2 separate regions of the Homo sapiens genome follow, and region 2 is linked to region 1. A link means that fine-mapping ties the variant in region 1 to the expression of a gene that starts in the linked region. Tissue or cell type: whole blood. Region 1 holds a variant in brackets; the other region holds the start of a gene. All regions are shown on one strand. Distances are between the middles of the regions.

What was found. PIP is the estimated chance that this variant, and not a neighbour inherited with it, causes the effect.
Region 2: MDGA1 starts here. The variant in region 1 is fine-mapped to the expression of MDGA1 in whole blood (INTERVAL, PIP above 0.99).

What each region holds. Positions count from the first base shown.
Region 1 is chr6:37,579,203-37,587,304 of GRCh38, forward strand. LOC124901313 (a long non-coding RNA gene) reads left to right here. Exons shown (of 2, transcript XR_007059568.1): 2 at 1,128-1,360. Among named protein-coding and RNA genes, the nearest start is that of MIR4462, 28 kb to the left of the region's middle. RefSeq lists enhancers at 5,011-5,684, 5,685-6,357. The variant G/A (reference allele first, on the strand shown) is at 4,886.
Region 2 is chr6:37,693,139-37,701,240 of GRCh38, forward strand. MDGA1 (MAM domain containing glycosylphosphatidylinositol anchor 1) reads right to left here and starts at 4,745. Exons shown (of 17, transcript NM_153487.4): 1 at 3,607-4,745. The coding sequence starts at 3,673. RefSeq lists enhancers at 2,639-3,368, 3,369-4,098 and silencers at 3,641-3,800, 3,831-4,120, 4,301-4,360, 4,421-4,550, 4,611-4,680 and 3 more.

The sequences.
Region 1 (8,102 bases):
GCTCCAGCCTGCCCCTCTCCAGACCCCCCATCCCTGACCTCTGCCACCTTCCCTAGGCCCCGTGGATCTCCCCTGTCTTCCCCACCTTCCTACCCCATCCTCCTCAGTTGTCCTAGCACTGATTATTGTACTTTCCATCAAGAGCTGGAAGGGTCTTGGAGAGGGTCTGCTCCACCCTTCCTACTCTGCATCTGGGGAAAGTGAGGCCCAGGGAAAGGAAGCAGCTTGCACAAAGCCATGGGGGTTAATTAGTCAAAACAAACCTCACCTAGGGAGGCCCACAATTTCCCATCCAGTGCTTTCTTACTGCATTTCAGCCTCCATCATATACCTCCTTTATCCTTTAAACACGCTGTTTGTAGGAGCACTGGGCTAGGAGTCCAAGCTAGGGTGCAGTACTGCCTCTGTCATAACTGCATGTGACGTCATCCTTAGGGCCTCAGTTTTCTCAGCTCTAAAATGGGCATTAAAGATTTCCTTCCAGTTGGAAAAAAAAAAAAGTTAATATGTGAGAAAATGTAGTTGGGAAACCAGTCCTGGGCCCAAATCTCAGCTGACTGCCAGTGAATAACATGAAAACGAAAACATCCTTAAACAACACACATGTTAAATTAATTAAAAGAGATGAAAATAGTACGAGGCAATGTTGGCCCAGCTGGGAGGAAACGGGAACATTGGCTCCTAAATTCTCCACAGCTCTATTGTTTGGGCTATAGCAAAATGTAACAGCAGCAGCTACTGCCGGAGAGAACAACTCATGCCCTTCGGCTTGGCAGGTTATCACACATTTGGAAATAAATCTCAAAGAAATAACACAAATGGAGAAAAGCAATTTGCACTAATATGATTATCTGGAATGTGAAAAAAACTAGAAAGGTCCAAACTGGTCATTAAGCCATGGAATTTATACGTGAAGGAATAACAGCTCACACTGTGGCAGCAGCTGCCGGTTGCCTCCCTGGATCCATCTCTCTTCCACCCTTAGAAAAAACTTTAGCAGGGTACATGGCTGCCCAGAAGAGATATTCCATTTCCCAATATCCCTTGCAACTAGGTGTGGCCTTGTGACCAAGTTCTGGCCAAAGGGATATAAACAGAACAGTCATCTGTGACACATGTCATTACAGAGAGGAGCATGCCCCTCCTGGAGCTTTCTTCCTTCCCGCTGGCCGGAATGCAGTTGTGATCATTTGAGTTTCAGCAGCCACCTTGGGCCATTTGGAGGAAGGCATCTGCTGTGCATGGCAGAGTCACGTGAAAGAAGGAAGCTGATTCATTATCACCAGGTCACCGTGTCAGCCCTGGACTGCCTACTTCTGAACTTTTTACTTGAGGGATTAAAGTAACCCTGGGTGTTTAATCATTGTTAATTTGGATTTTCTGCCATTAATAACCAAATCAAGTTCTAACTGATAGAAACACGCAGGGAAAAAACGTTGAATGGAAAAGTAGGCACAAAAGTGGATGTTCTTCATGGATCCCAGCTATTTAAGTTATAGATTGGTACAGAGATGGTGATTGAATGGTGAGTCATCAATAATAGTGTGATGGTGTTGATTGGATTTTTCCCTCTGTAAACAAGTTTAGTTGCTGAATCGGTCAGGAGAGGCTAGGTTATGCTGAGGTGACAAGCAACTCCTAAATTTCAGGGCCGTAAGACAACTCAATTTAATTCTTACTCTCCATGTTCGTCGTGGGTCAGCAGGAGGCTGTGCTCATGGCAGTCACTCAGAGCACTGGCTGACAGAGACGCTGTGACAGAGGGCAAGAGAGAACGCTGGAAGGTCTCGCTCTCACCAGGAATTAAATGCCACGGCCTGAAAGTGACACTTTCATGGTGCTCACAACTCATTGGCCAGGACCAGTCCTAGAACCTGGCCCACCCACATGGAGGCAACGAGTGCAACTCTGCCACCTGCCCAGAAGGCGGCGAGCTGGAGAGACTTGGCAGATTGCACCAGTGATGATCACAGATACATCATGAAGAAAACGTAAGAGCACAAACATTTGTGAAATAATTTTTAGAAGTCCTTCCAGAAAAAGTAAAGTTTTATGTTTCTATAAGCCTTTATTTTATTTTATTTTATTTTATTTTATTTTATTTTATTTTATTTTATTTTATTTTATTTTATTTTATTGATGGAGTTTCTCCATCTGTCGCCCAGGCTGGAGTGCAGTGGCGTGATCTCAGCTCACTGCAACCTCTGCCTCCCAGGTTTAAGTGATTCTCTCACCTCAGCCTCTAGAGTAGCTGGGATTACAGGCGTGTCCCACCATGCCCGGCTAATTTTTGTATTTTTAGTAAACATGGGGGTTTCACCATATTGGCCAGGCTAGTCTCAAACTCCTGGCCTCCATTGATAGAACCATCTCGGCCTCCCAAAGTGCTGTGATTATAGGCATGAGCCACCATGCCCGGCTGAGCCTTTGTATTCCTGATGCAAGTCTGAATTCCTTGAGCACAAGAAATGCCCTGCCTTCTTCGGTAGTTGCCACAGGCCTATCCCAGGGCTGGGCCCATGGGAAGCGTTAGAGAAGGAACTGCAATCAGAATGATGGTAGGTGACATGCTCGCCATGTGCTGGGCACTGCACATTCCATCCGGAGCCCTTATGGACGTGCCAGACATGCTTCTCTGCACCTTAGATGGATTAACTCATCGAATCCTTACAAAAAACCTTTGAGGGTAGTACTGTTATTATCCCCATTTTACACAGAAAGAAACTGAGGCACAGATGGGTTAAGTGACTTGCCAAGGATCACCACTAGGAAGAGGCAGAGCCAGGAATGAATGCAGGTGGCTCCAGAGCCCGTGCAATCCTGTGACTTTGCCCAAGCTCTAGAAGGCAGGAACAGCAGTGAGAAAAGACAGAGTTCTGTCCTCACGGGGCTGCAGCAGTCTACCCTGTGTGGAGCCCCTGTGATAGGTGGAATACGGCCACCATCAAGAAGTCCACGTCCTAATCCCTGCAGCCTGTGTATGCTATCTTATTCCTTATTCCTTATAGAAAAGGAACTTTGTAGGTATGATTAAATTAAGGATCTTGAGAAGGAGAGATTATCCTGGGTTACTGGGGTGGGCCCAGTGTCATCACAAGGGTCCCCATAAATGGAAGAGGCAGGAGAGTCAGAGATATGGTGGTAGACACAGAGACTGGAGTGATGTCGCCGCCAAATCAAAAAATGCTGGCAGCGTCTAGAAACTGGAAGAGGCCAACAATGAAGCCCCTCCCCCGCCCTGGGCCGGAGCCTCTGAAAGGAATGCAGTCCTGCCAACACCTTGATTTTAGCCCCAGAAGATTTATTTATTTATTTATTTATGAGCTAGGATATCACTCTGTTTCCCAGGCCAGAGTGCTGTGGCATGATCTCAGCTTACAGCAACCTCTGCCTCCTAAGTAGCTGGGACCACAGGCATGCACTACCACACCCGGCTAATTTTTTGTATTTTATGTAGAGATGGGTTTTCACCATGTTGCCCAGGCTGGTCTCAAACTCCTGGGTTCAAGCAATCCATCCACCTCAGCTTCCCAAAGTGCTGGAATTACAGGGGTGAGCCACTCCTCTCAGCCCTTATAAGATTCATTTTGGACTCTTGACTCCTAGAACTATAAGAAAATAAATGTGTGTTGCTTTAAGCCACAAGGGTTGTAGTAATTTGTGAAAGCTGCAACAAGGAAACTAATACACGCCACCCCTCCATTTTGCTCTTCAGAGACCCACTGGGTAGACAGAAACTCTTGTACACCCTTCGCCCCAGCCCCTTGCGTCTCCTTGAGATGGAGGCTGAGAAAGAGCTGGGAAGGAGCTGGGAAGGGTCGTTCTATCCTGGTTACCTTGGGAAATGGTGAGCATTGCTTACCCTGTTCCTGGGGTCCCGGGCAAATCCTGGCTCTGCCTGTAGAACAGGACTCCCCTCCCACAGCCTTCTCCACCACCCTTTCCCAGAGCTGGGATAGCCTTTCTCCTGGGCATGAATGAGGGGTCTTTAAGGCCTTAATGCCTCTCACTCCTGCACCCAGACTGGGCCCCACCACTCTCCTGCACTAGTACATTACCCACACCCATGAGCCAGGCCGGCTTCATCTCTGCTGAACCATCAGGGGAGGTGGAGGGCATGCCAGCCAAGGGAACAGAGTCTCGGAGAGACCAGCCCAGAGAGAAGCGGGCAGAGACAGGCAGAAGGGGAATTGGCATGAGCAGAACACAGAGACTCAGAGGTGGGGAAGGGGAAGCAGAAAGAGGAAACAGAGCCAGAGACATACGGTGAGCATGCCGGTGGCTTTCTCCCTGAACTGCTCCAGTGGTGTGTAGCCGCTCGGGTGCAGTCGATAGCTGGGTTTACCAGGGTAGCTAATTCCTGGTCCTGTCAGCTGTGGCAATGACCAAGGGCTTCACTTCATAACACAAAACCCACACTCCTTTCCATGACTGCAAGGCCCGACTGACTTTGGCCCCTGGATCCACTTGGACTTTGTTTCCCACGATGCTTCAGGCACTGTGGCCTCCCCGAATACCCCAGGGACATCCTCTCCTTGCACACAAGTCTCTGCACAGGTCACCTTTTTACAAGACCCTTCCTTGACCACCCTTTCTAGAACAGCAGCCGGCTACATCCCTCTAACTCAGTTTTTCTCCATAGCATTTATCACAACCTGACACTAGACCAATGGGTATTGGTTGAATGTCTGTCTCTCCAACATCAACACTGTACCCCAGTGTGTCCATACTCTGCTGCCCACACAGTAGCTATGAGGCCCTGGTGGCTACTTAACATTTGCATTTGTATTAATTAAAATGTAATACAGGTGGGCCGGGCACGGTGGCTCACGCCTGTAATCCCAGCACTTTGGGGGGCCGAGGCCATTGGATCACCTGAGGTCAG[G/A]AGTTTGAGACCAGACTGGCCAACGTGGTAAAACCCTGTCTCTACTAAAAATAGAAAAATTAGCTAACATGGTGGTGCACGCCTGTAATTCCAGCTACTGGGGAGGCTGAGGCAGGAGAATCACTTGAAACCTGGAAGTGGAGGTTGCAGTGAGCTGAGATTATGCCATTGCACTCTAGCCTGGGTGACAAGAGTGAAACTCCGTCCCAAAAAAAAAAAAAAAAAGTAATACAGCTGGAAGCTCAGCTCCTCAGCATCCTCACCATATTTCTGGTGCTCAGAACCCACATGCGGGTTAACAGTACCCGACTGAAGAGCCCAGAATGCATTTCCATCATCCTAACTTTGTGCCAAGAATCAAACTCATAATCAACTCATATAAAGCAGGTGGACACACAGCAGAAGGAATCCCAGCAGCTCCACACTGAACAGGTGTAATTATGCTGCCCCAGCACCCCTCCTGGCCTCCAGGTGCCCCTTGAACTCCCCTCCTGCCTCTCTCCCTGGCCTCTCCCCTGGGGCTCACTGCTGCGTCTTCCTCCCTTGGTGGGGTCGGCGCCTCCTCCTGCCGACCCTGTGCTCACCCTCTCCAACTGCATTAGCTGGGTTGTCGTTGCTAATCTGTGTGCCTCCCCACGAGCTGGGGGCGGCCAGGGAGCTTGGATGGACCTTTCACCTCTGCCACCATGACAGCACAAAGAGCCTTGGAAAATGCTGGCTCCCAGTGGGCTTTCCCCCTTCTCCCTTCTCTGTGCTCCTGGTGTCCAGTTTCACACTCTCCATCGCCACACCCAGGGCAGAGGGCCCCAGCCTCCCCGAGCTGCTGGAGCCACGTACCCAGCAGCCGGGGTGGGGATGGGACAGGATGGGCCCTGTGGTTGCTGAGGGAGCAGGCCAGAGAAAGGCGCCCTTTCTGACACTCGGCGTTGCCTCTCTTGGTTTCATCTTCTCATACAGCCATAGCAACATGGCAGGTCAACAGGGTACCTTTAAAATTATGGGAAAGGCTCATGCTTTTTTGGTGAATGAGTTCAGGGAAGCCTATGCTGTCCCGTGGCACATTCCCCTGCCTCCCCTGCCCGCCTCCTGCCATGTAGGGCAGGCCCCTTGGAGACCCCCTGCCACCTTCCCTCCCCACCTTCCTCTCTGGGATCCTGGCCCAGGCCAGGCAGCAGGGCTCCAGGTGGGCAGGGGGGCAGGGAGAGAGCAGGGCCCAGGGCCATGTGAATGTAGGAGAGGAGGCCCCAGGTGTGTGTGTGTGTCCCCAGCCCTGCCCCCAGCCCTGCCTCCTCTGCCAGGATTCTGAGCCGTCTCGCTGTTGTCATCTTGTCTGATCTCTCAGACCGTGCAGAAAGCCACACTGTCACTGTTCCCCTTGCCTTCAGCCTCCCCAGACCCCCTGGGATGTGGGCTCCTCCCACCGCCTCTCAAGACCCCCATTCACCCACATGATGCCAGGGGGAGAGCAAGCTCTTCAGACAAGGAAAGGGCTGGAAGAGGTGCTTAAAGTGGTGAGGGGATCAAGGTGTCATAGTGGCTCAGAGGAAGGGAGAGAAGCTCGGATGCACACTCATGTACATCCAGGACCTAGAAGCTATCCCTCCCTGCTGCTCTGCACACAAGCTGTAGGAATCAGGAATTGCATTTTTCCAGGGAGGATGTCATCCACAAGCCTGGACACTGAGAGTTGGGGTATGTGAAGCCCAGCGCTGAGCTTGTTAAATACTCCTGATTCAAGATCCCCACTGCCCTGGAGCCTGGGGTCTCAGAGGATACAATCCCCTTTGGGTCCAGGCCTGGGAAACCCACTGTACCTCCCATCCCCAGGCTCCCAGAGTCCCATCCTCGCACTGGCAAACAGGAGGGGAATCACCCACGCTGCACTCCTACTCTCTGGAGGGGGAGTGTCCTTACTTTGGCCTGAGTCTCCTCTTTGGCATAAGAGTGCTTCTCATCGGGAGGACCTGTGGAGTCTCCCTGCGACATGTGGTCATTCACCCACCCACTGCAGTCCAGGACAGTGGTATGGACTTACCCAGGCTTCCTAAGAGCCAGTTCAATTCGTTGTGGTGCCTCAGTGCTCACTATGCCAGAGCTGGACAGCACCGTCGAGAAGCCCCGCATTCCACAGAGGAGACAACTTGGCCCAGAGGGGAGAGGGATTTATCCAAGATCATGCAGTAAGTTAGGGCCAAAGTCCAGATGCAACCTCAGGTCCCCTGATGACCAGACTGATGCTGGGGGGCTGCGTGAACATGCATCAGAGCCTGAGCATGTGCACCTGCTCTGGCATGGTGATCACGTTCCCCTCTGTCCACTGGGTAGGAAACTTGCTCTTGCTCCTCCCCTTCAGGAGCTGCTGGTCGGACTGAAGGGGTGGCCATCGCAGTGGGGTCGGGGGCCATTTCCTCAGAAGCTCCCAAGGACCCAAAGGCGCCTTGGGGGAAGTGGGTATCTGCCCATCTGCTGGCTGCCCTGTATCCAAGCTCCCTCCCTCTTAGCAGAATTTCCCACAGTGTGAATCTGGATGGCAGAGACCCAACTCATTCTGAAAGCCAAAGGGGTGCAGAGGCAGAGGTTACAGTGAGCCGAGACTGTGGCAGCGTCTCCCTTCCCTGACCTGGCAACTCGTCTGTGGGCACACAAACTACTGTGGCCAGTAGGGCGTTTTTGTCCAGGATTTTATTTTTTAAATTAACATAGAGCAAAATTGATGTAATTATTTTGGTGTATAGTTTTGTGGTTTTCTATTTTTATATTTAAAAATTGTTTACATAATAGAGACAGAGTCTCACTATGTTGCTCAGGCTGGTTTCAAACTCCTGGGCTCAAGCAATCCTCTTGCCTCAACCTCCCGAAGGGCTGAGATTACTGGTGTGAGCCACTGGGCATGGCTGTTTTATGAATTTCTAGCACAAGCATAGATTCATGTCACCACCACCACAATCAGGACACAGAACAGTTCCCAAAAAACTCCTTCCTACTATCCCTTTGTCTGGGATCTTGACCTGGAGAGAGTGGGATGCAAAAGTGGGACCGTCACAAATTGCTCATGATGTACCAGTGTCCAGATGAGCTGGGTGTCCTCAGGTGGCCGGTGTCCAGAGGCGGCAATGTCCCCTGCCCTAGCTGGGCTGTCTCTGGCCATGACTGCCTGCCTCCCCTTCAACCAGCCTATTTTGCTTCTGGCCAGTTTTCCAAGCCTGCTTCTCAACTT
Region 2 (8,102 bases), 110 kb after region 1:
GCACGGAGCTTCTCGAGGACAAAAGAGAACCCCAAGCCTCTGTTAGCCCCAGGAAACCAAAGTTTCAAGGCATGGGGTAGGAACTCCAGTGAAAAACCTCAAGTGCCCACACCCAGATCAACACCCGGGAGATGACACTGGGACACTCACTTCCTGAAATTCCTTCTCCGTGCTCCCCAGAGGAGGGAAAAAAACCTGACTTAGTGATAATTCTGTAAGCTGTGTTGCTCTTGTCAAATTATTCAACATCTGTCTTCATGTTCCTACAAAAATTAACATAGGATAGTAGTTTCTGATGACACCTTTGGTGAAATATTTTGACTTCCACCAGTAAGTTGCAAACAACCTGTCTTAAGGATAATGTCAATTCCCACTTCTGCATATTAAATAATTCAGGGGTTTGTTGTGTTTTTGTAAGGGAGAGGAATCCCACTGACCTGCGGTCCGACTGCTATGAGAGGAGCAGAAGCCGGGACAGAAGGCGGGGTGTTCCCTGACGCTATCCGCATGCAAGATATTCCTCTTCCATCACTTGGCTACTGCCTTTGCCCCAGAACTAGGCCACTGGGGCCAGCCCAGCCCCCTGGCTTGCCAGAAAGCAGATTACAGGATCCACCCCAGAGGACAACAAACTGGGCCAGGAGATTGGGAGGCGAGGAGGGAGGGAGAACTGGCTCCAAATGGACCATCTGGTCCAGCACTTGGCCGTTGTAGCATCTGTGCCCCAAAGAACAAAGCCACCTGGCCAAACTGAGAGTGCTGCCTCCCCAGCCCTATTGCAGACCATGGATCCTAGGGCAGGTGGTGGACCTCAGTGGGAAGCAGGACATAGGGTTCTAGGCACCTACCTCCTACCAGCCTCAGCAGAGACACACAGCCTAGGCCGAATGCCGTCAGGTTCGCTCTCCACCGCCTGCTCGTCTTCCTCCCCTCTGTTCAGCCCCTCCCTTATCCACACAGGTCTGGGGGCAGAGGGGCAGGGGCAGGGGATTCCTCCCCAGGATATACATTTTTCTCCTATGTCTTGAATTAGACCTGCTGCCTCCCTCCCCAGTGCCAGGGCAATACTAGGCTTCCAGCCTCTTCTCTCTTCTAGGGCTGCAGGATAGGACTCTGTGACTCGCCCTAAGCAGAGACCCTTAAACAATGCCCCCACTGCCCTGCTGGAAACCAAGTCCTAGAGAGACTTCTCATGGAGAAAGAATTTCCAACCTGCCCCCAACTATAGCCCTTTCTTCATTCAACAAATACCTGCCTAGCTCCTGCTGTTGTGCCGGGGACCATGCTGGATGCTGGATGCAATGCCAGGCTGGAGTGGCCATCCCTGGTCCCTATGTGCCGCCTTCACTCTCATGCTGTTTCTTCTGCTTCGCGGGTACAGAAAGACTGCTGGGGAGGGGGGCAGAAGAACTAGTCCCAGATCTTCGACCTACTTCTTAAGCCAGTCCTGGTCCTACAGAGATCCTCCCTTCTGCTGTATCTGGCCAAAGATTCTAGCATCACAAGGAACTCAGCGACCTCCTGTCATCCTCCTCCTCCTCCTCCTAAATCTTCTGCCTTCATCCACCTCAATAAAGACTTTTTACCCAGCAATTTCCCTGAAGCCCCAACACTGCCTGAAGCCAAGCTCTCAAAGGAAAAGTGGCATGTCACCCAAGGGCCCAGGGTCGGCCCCAGCACACCCAGCCCACTTTGATTGGCTCTGAGTGAGAGCAAATGGGACCTAGGCACAGGCGGGAGGGGAGAAAACACAGAGAGAAAAGGGTATAGATAAGCCTATGGCTGAATCCTGGCCCTAGAGTACTCTGAAATGAGGGTCCACAGAGACCACTGCCCCTGACTCCAAACCCCACTCTCATTGCTGGGTTTACTAGACTAGGAACAGAGGAACCTCCCAAAGATGAGCCCCAAGCAGCCTAGAGAAGGCTGGAGAAGCTGGAGGGGATGGAGGACAGGGATGACCAGGAGTGGGTCTTGCCAAATGCACCCAATGACACAGGGAAGGAGGGTAGAGTGGAGGACAGCAGCATGCAGGAAGGGCTCTCCATCACCCTCCCCAGCCCCGGGGCTGTGGTGAGAAGGCAAAGACCTCAGCAGCACCTCTCTTAGGCACCTTGACCTGGGGAGAAAGAAGAAAGTGAAACCCCAGTCCACTGGCATCTTCATCTGCCCTGGAGAGGCCAAGGCCTCCAGTACCTGCCCCGTGGCCTCCTCGCCCCAAACCCAGCCTCTCCCAGTCCCTGCTGCATTCTTTCCTGCCTTTCCTGGCCTCTGTGAGGGGCCAGGCAGTAAGAGACACACAAACTAATTAAGAAGCAGAGTTTGGCCAGATGCCTGGGCTAGTCTTACCAGAGAATTAAGGCCAAGCCAGCTAGCTGGGCAGGGCCAGGAGCATGTCACCTCTCAGACACCCTTCAGGACACCCCTTCTTCTTGCCAGGCACAGGCAGATGGGTCAGCACCCTCCAGGGTGCTTTAGCCTCAGCACCTGAGGCTGGCAACCAGTAGTCAGTGCCTATACTACCCCACAAAGAACAGGTCAACCTCCCCTGGATCTAAAAGAGGAATCATTAGTCCCTCCACCCAACAGAAAAGGAAAGAGAGAATCCTGCCCGCCCCAGCCACACATCACTAAAAAGGGACCTGGACAAACCATCCTGCAGTAAAGAGAAAGCAAAGTAAGGGCCACTGGGCCCCTGAGAATGATTTTTTGTGCTGTGGGGTTAAGGCACTGCGGGAGGCTGAGCCCAGGTGACTGAATGGATGATGCCTGCCCCGGGCCTTCCCTGGGAAAACCCACAGGATGGAAGGGGGAAGGGGTAACCAGAGTCTCCCTTGGTAACCACAGCGAGGCGTGCGGACGCAGGAGCAAGGCTGCGTGGCAGGAGGCAGAGTTTGGACACGTATCCCGGTGGGTGCGTGCCGTGTTTGCGTTTTCTGGGGATGGTGGCTGAATGTATCTGTGTGTGCGCGCAGGAAGGAAGGTGGGGTTGGGGTTTGTAGCCAAGAACCGGGGACAGGAAGAACTGGTTCAGGGAAGGTCCGAAAAGGGATGCCGGGGTCGAAGGCGCCAGGGCCAGGGGATGCCGGCATCCTGATCAGGGTGTCAAGCCCTGAGTAGAAGAAGCGAAGCCGCAGCAACAGCGGGGAAGGCGAGCCCGCCGCCCGGCCTTGGTGCTGACAGCCGGCTCGCCCGCAAGCCGCGCGGCAACTCCGGCTCATGCATCGCTTGGCTTCCACTCCGGAGGCCGAGCCAGGACGAGGTTTCGGTGCAAGTCGCTGCACCAGTCCTAGACTGGGTCTGTCCGGGTCTCCCGAGCCGACCGGGTGCTCTCAAGGGTTCCTAATCATTCCCACCTCTAGCAGGGTGTGGGAAAGTGGGTGCCTCCTCCTGACATCCCGGCTTCCCACCAGACCCTACGACCGGCCCCTGTGTTCCGAAGCAGCTAGCTCGGTCTCCACGCGCCCTGGAGAGGGCGGGGACGCGGGCATCCACTCCAGAGTCCGAGTCGAGGTCTCCACCAAACCCCGGCAGCGCGCACTTTGCGCCTCTTGCAAAGTTTCCGCGCGAGGTTAAGCCAAGGTGGAGCGGGACGCGGGCTCTTACCGTAGACTCCTTGTCCCCGGCAGTGGAAGGGGATCAGCGCCAGAAGTAGAAGGCAGGTCACCTCCATCTTCACGGCCGGTGCTTCATCCCCGCGAGGCGGCGCAGCCCGAGAGGCGGCGGGGGGCGCATTCGCCGGGGCCCCGCGACGCCCCTATGTCCCCCCCTTTCCCTGAGAGGTGAGAGAGAGAGCGGCGACGAAGACCAGGAGACTGAAGAGGCGGAGGTGGCGGCGACCCGTGTTTCTCCTCCGGCGGGGCCGCTGCCCGCGTGGGGACGCAGGGGGCGCTGGCCCAGCCCCGGGTGCCTCGGCGCGCCCGGCACAGCAGCCAGCGCCCCGACCCGAGGAGCCCGGCCGCCGAGCCGCCCCGGGTACCCAGGGCCGTCCGCGCGGGATGCTAGGCGCCGGGGACCTCTCGGCGGCGGAGGCGGCGCTTCGATCCAACAGGCCACGGACGACTGACAAACTTGTCGTTTCCCCGCACTGGGGCCGCCCCTCAGCGGAGCGGAGTCGGGGAGGCCGGGGCTCCGCTCGAGTTAATCAATCTGCTGTTTCCAGTCCTGCGGCCGCTGCCGTGGGCTCAGCGGCCCGACTCCAGGGGGCCGGGCTGAAAGCACTCGCGGCGGCGAAGCAGCCCCGGGCCCGGCCCTCCTGATCCGGGGAGCAGCGCGGGCTGGGTTCGGCCGAGGGACGAGCGCCGCGGGTCCCCGGGTCCGTGAAGTTAGCCGAGCCGCCGATAAACCCGGGGGAAGAATAGCAGCCCGGCGCCCCGCGGGAATCTGGAGAGCAATTCCAGGCAAGAAGGGCCCCAGAAAACGGGGAAAGGAGGAAAGTTTGAGTCTTTTGAAAAATATTCGCGCTCTCGCCCAGGCCGGGGCTGCGGCGCGGGCGCCGCTCGCCGCCTCCGCTCGCCGCGCTCCTCTCCCGCCGTCTGGCCGCGGCCGTAGCCCTCCCGGGCTCCGAGCTCTCGGGAGAGCGGGGCTACGCCGCGCCCCAAGTTGGTCGTCCCCGCCCCCGCCCGGCGGCCTTGGCCTGCGGGGGCCCAGAGCGGGCGGGGCCGGGCCGGGCTCCGGGGCGCGGCGGCCGCTCGGCTCCGGGCCGCGGGAGCGCTCCGCTCGCTCAGCAACTTGGGCTTTGCTGTGCTGCTTTTTCGCCCCTCCGAGCTTTTCATTCCGCGCTCCTCCCGCCTCCCTCCCTCTCTTCCTCCTCCCTCCTCCTCGCGTCTCCTCGTTCGGTCTCTCGCTCTCCCACCCGTTGTCGCTCGCTCTCCTGTTTGATTCCCCTCCAGTTAAAAAAAGGAGCCAATTAAAGGCAGCCCAGCTCGCCTGGCCCAGCCTCTGTCCAATTTCCTCGCCTCCCCCAGGACCAATTAGAGAAAACAAAACAGGGCTGGGGGAAGCTGACTGCCTGCCTTTCTCTTTCTCTTTCTCTTTCTCTTTCTCTCTCTCTCTCTCTCTCTCTCTCTCTCTCTCTCTCTCTCTCTCTCTCTTTCTCTCTCTCTCCTCTCTCTCTCTTCTCTCTCTCCTCTCTCTCTCCCTCTCGCTCTCTCTCCCTTCCTCTCCTCTCCTCTCTTTCCCTTTCTCCTCTCCCTCTCTCTCTCTTCCTCTCTCCGCCCCCTAACATTCCCCCCCAACCCCGCCCAGCAGGAAAATGTCAGAAAGCAGAAATGGATCCATCTATCCCGAGGACAGTGGCGGAGGGACCTGGGTTTCGGCGGGGGCTCTGCAGCCGCGCGCTCGCACACTCGCTGTTCTCCAGCCTTGCACACCCAGACTAGCTGGCCGAGCCGGGTGCACCGTTGCCAGCAGCCCGCGGGGCAAACACGGCCGCTCGCTTCGGAGACCCATGCCCGCAGGGCACTGCACACTTCGTAAATGTTTTGCACTTTGGGGAGGCGGGACTGAAGCGGGGGTCCTAGGGAAAGGCCGGGCGCCTGCGGTTCCTGGGGTCCTGCAGCCGCGCGAGACGGGCCGCGGCTGTGGGTCTGCAAGGCTGTCTGCCCGGCTCGAGAGGCCCCCGCCCCTTTCCAGGCGTCTGGTGCTGGGGCCGGGCCGGAGCAGCTGGCGGAGAGGTCGCGCTGAGAGCTCCTGCCCTTGCCGCGGCCCACAGGTTGCCAACAGGTTTGCTCGCACGACCCCTCCGCCAGAGCTTCCCTAAGTCACCCCACATTTTCCTCGGCTAGCCACTCTTCCCATCTTGCCTCCCCTCGGGACCTCAGGCGCCCCCAAGCGCCCCGGGGGCACACCTCCTTCCGGCTGCCGAACCCGAGCCCCGCTCCAGCGGCGGGAGTCCGGCACTCGGGTCTCAGCCGCCTCGAAGGGGCCCTCGCGGAGCAGGAGTGCGGAGAACGCTCCTCCCAAACGCCCGCGGGGAGGGGCGTAGGCTGGCAAGCGAGGCTGGTGGCCTCCCCCGCGCCTCCGATCCCGCCCCGCGCCCAACCCGGGTCCTGCTAATCTCACCTGCTCCACCTGTCGCCGTTATTTATCTCAGCGTGTGCGCAAGAATTGTTTTAGGTCGGCCCGTGGGAGCGCAGACAATCGCAGCAGCTAACAAGCGGGGAGACTACGAACCCCCCCTCCCTTCGCCCCCTGGAACTGCTCAATATCTTGATGGTGGTTCCACGGCTCTATGCATTTGTCAAAACTCAAAGATCTCCACACTCCAAAAAGGTTAGTCTGCATATAAATTGAAACATAAATTTTTTTAAAATAATAATAATGAACCGTCCCTTCCCCAGGCCCATTTCCTGCTGGGTCTCTCCTCCCTTGACTCTCCAGGGCTTAAGCCCCACCGGAGCGCGCGCTCCTGACTGCTGGAAGAGGAGCGGGAGGTGTCGGGAAGTGCCTGGTGGCATGGGGGGGTTCCACCTTCCTTTCTCAGCCCCCTTTCTGTCCATCTCAGGAAGCCCGAGAACATCCGAAGATTCCTATTCTCTAGCCCACCTCCACTCGTTTGCGCCTCCCTTGTGCCCTCTTCCGTCTTTTCTCTCCTTTCTACCCCGTGGGTCCAAGGCTGATAGGAAGTCCAGACTCAGTGCGGTGCTCCCAGCAGATGCCAGCTGCAGACATGTTCAGTGAATTCACGAATGATGCCCATCATGGCCAGATATCACAGACCTGGGATACCCTCAGGGTAGCCATCCTTTCACTCCCCAGCCCCGGACTGTTACCTCAAAGGCAAAAAATTCATTTTCTGTCCCACAGAGATACACAGCCACCATGCCTCTTCCCGCCTCCCCCATCCAGTCAGAAAAGGAAGTGGTGCCAATTGAGGGAGTGATGAGGGATAGCTTCTTCTATTGTCATCCTCTTCCCATTATTAGAGGGTTCCTGGAAGTCTCTACCCCTTCCAGGAAGCTCTCAGGGAGTGATCACAGCGACTGTGGCTCTTCCTGGCTTTGCCCATTCTGAGCTGAATGTGTACTTCTCCATGTCGTGCGAAACTGCGCTCTGATTTTCCAATTAGCTGTTCCAACACCAAACAGCAGTCAATTGCTCCTCTTTGGCTTTGGGGTGAGTTACTGGGGACAGAGAACTGCACTGACTCAGCTGACATTCTCTTGACTTTGCCCTCTCTAAACTCACACACTAGCCTGGAGGAGAAAGAAGGTTCATGATGGCGGGGTGGGGGGAACAGAGGACCAAGTTAGCCAGGCTGGGATTGAACATTTGCTGTAGCTAATCCACTTGTGAATACTCTGCAGCTAATTGTATGCAGTGTAAATACCTTGACAGCCTGTTTGTGTGTGTCTGTAAATTCAGCTGTCTCCTCCCCCAAGTGTGCCCTGCCTGCTGCCTCAACACAGCCCAGTGTCTGACAATGGGAGGCAACCTCAGAGAAGGGAAAGAGCCCTAGACATCAGTCCTGCGTCCCAGTCCTAACCTCTCTAGGCCTCAGTTTCCCCAGATGTAAACTAGGTAAGATCCCTGTCTTCCTAGAGAGAAGTGGAGTAATAAGAATAACAGCTGACACCACATGCCAGGCACTGTATTAACTATTTAATCTTCATAACCATTATGTAAGACAGGGCTGTTATTCTCATGGAATGACATAGGAAGATGTAGTGACTCACTCAGCTGCTAAGGGGCCAAACTGAGCTTTGACCTCAGTAGCTTGGCTCGGCGACCTTGCCCTCTCCCACTGTTCTATACTGAAGAGGGGCAAGGGCCTAGGTATCAAATAATGTTTCCACAAGAACTGTTTCCTGTTCCCTTTACAGACACAGAGAACAATACTCTGGCCCCCAAATTGCACCAAGGGCAGGGGGGACATGAGAGCTAGACTGCTAGACCTGACATGGGCCATAGGGCACAGGATGAGCCTGAGGTCAGGCTATCTGGAGGCTTGGTGGTCAGCACCCAGCTGCCAAGTCTTCGGTTCCACTCAAGATCATTCTAGGTCACTTCCCACTAGAAAAAAAAATATATATATATATATGTGTGTGTGTATATATATATATATATATATATATATATATATATATATTTGCCTCAAAGAA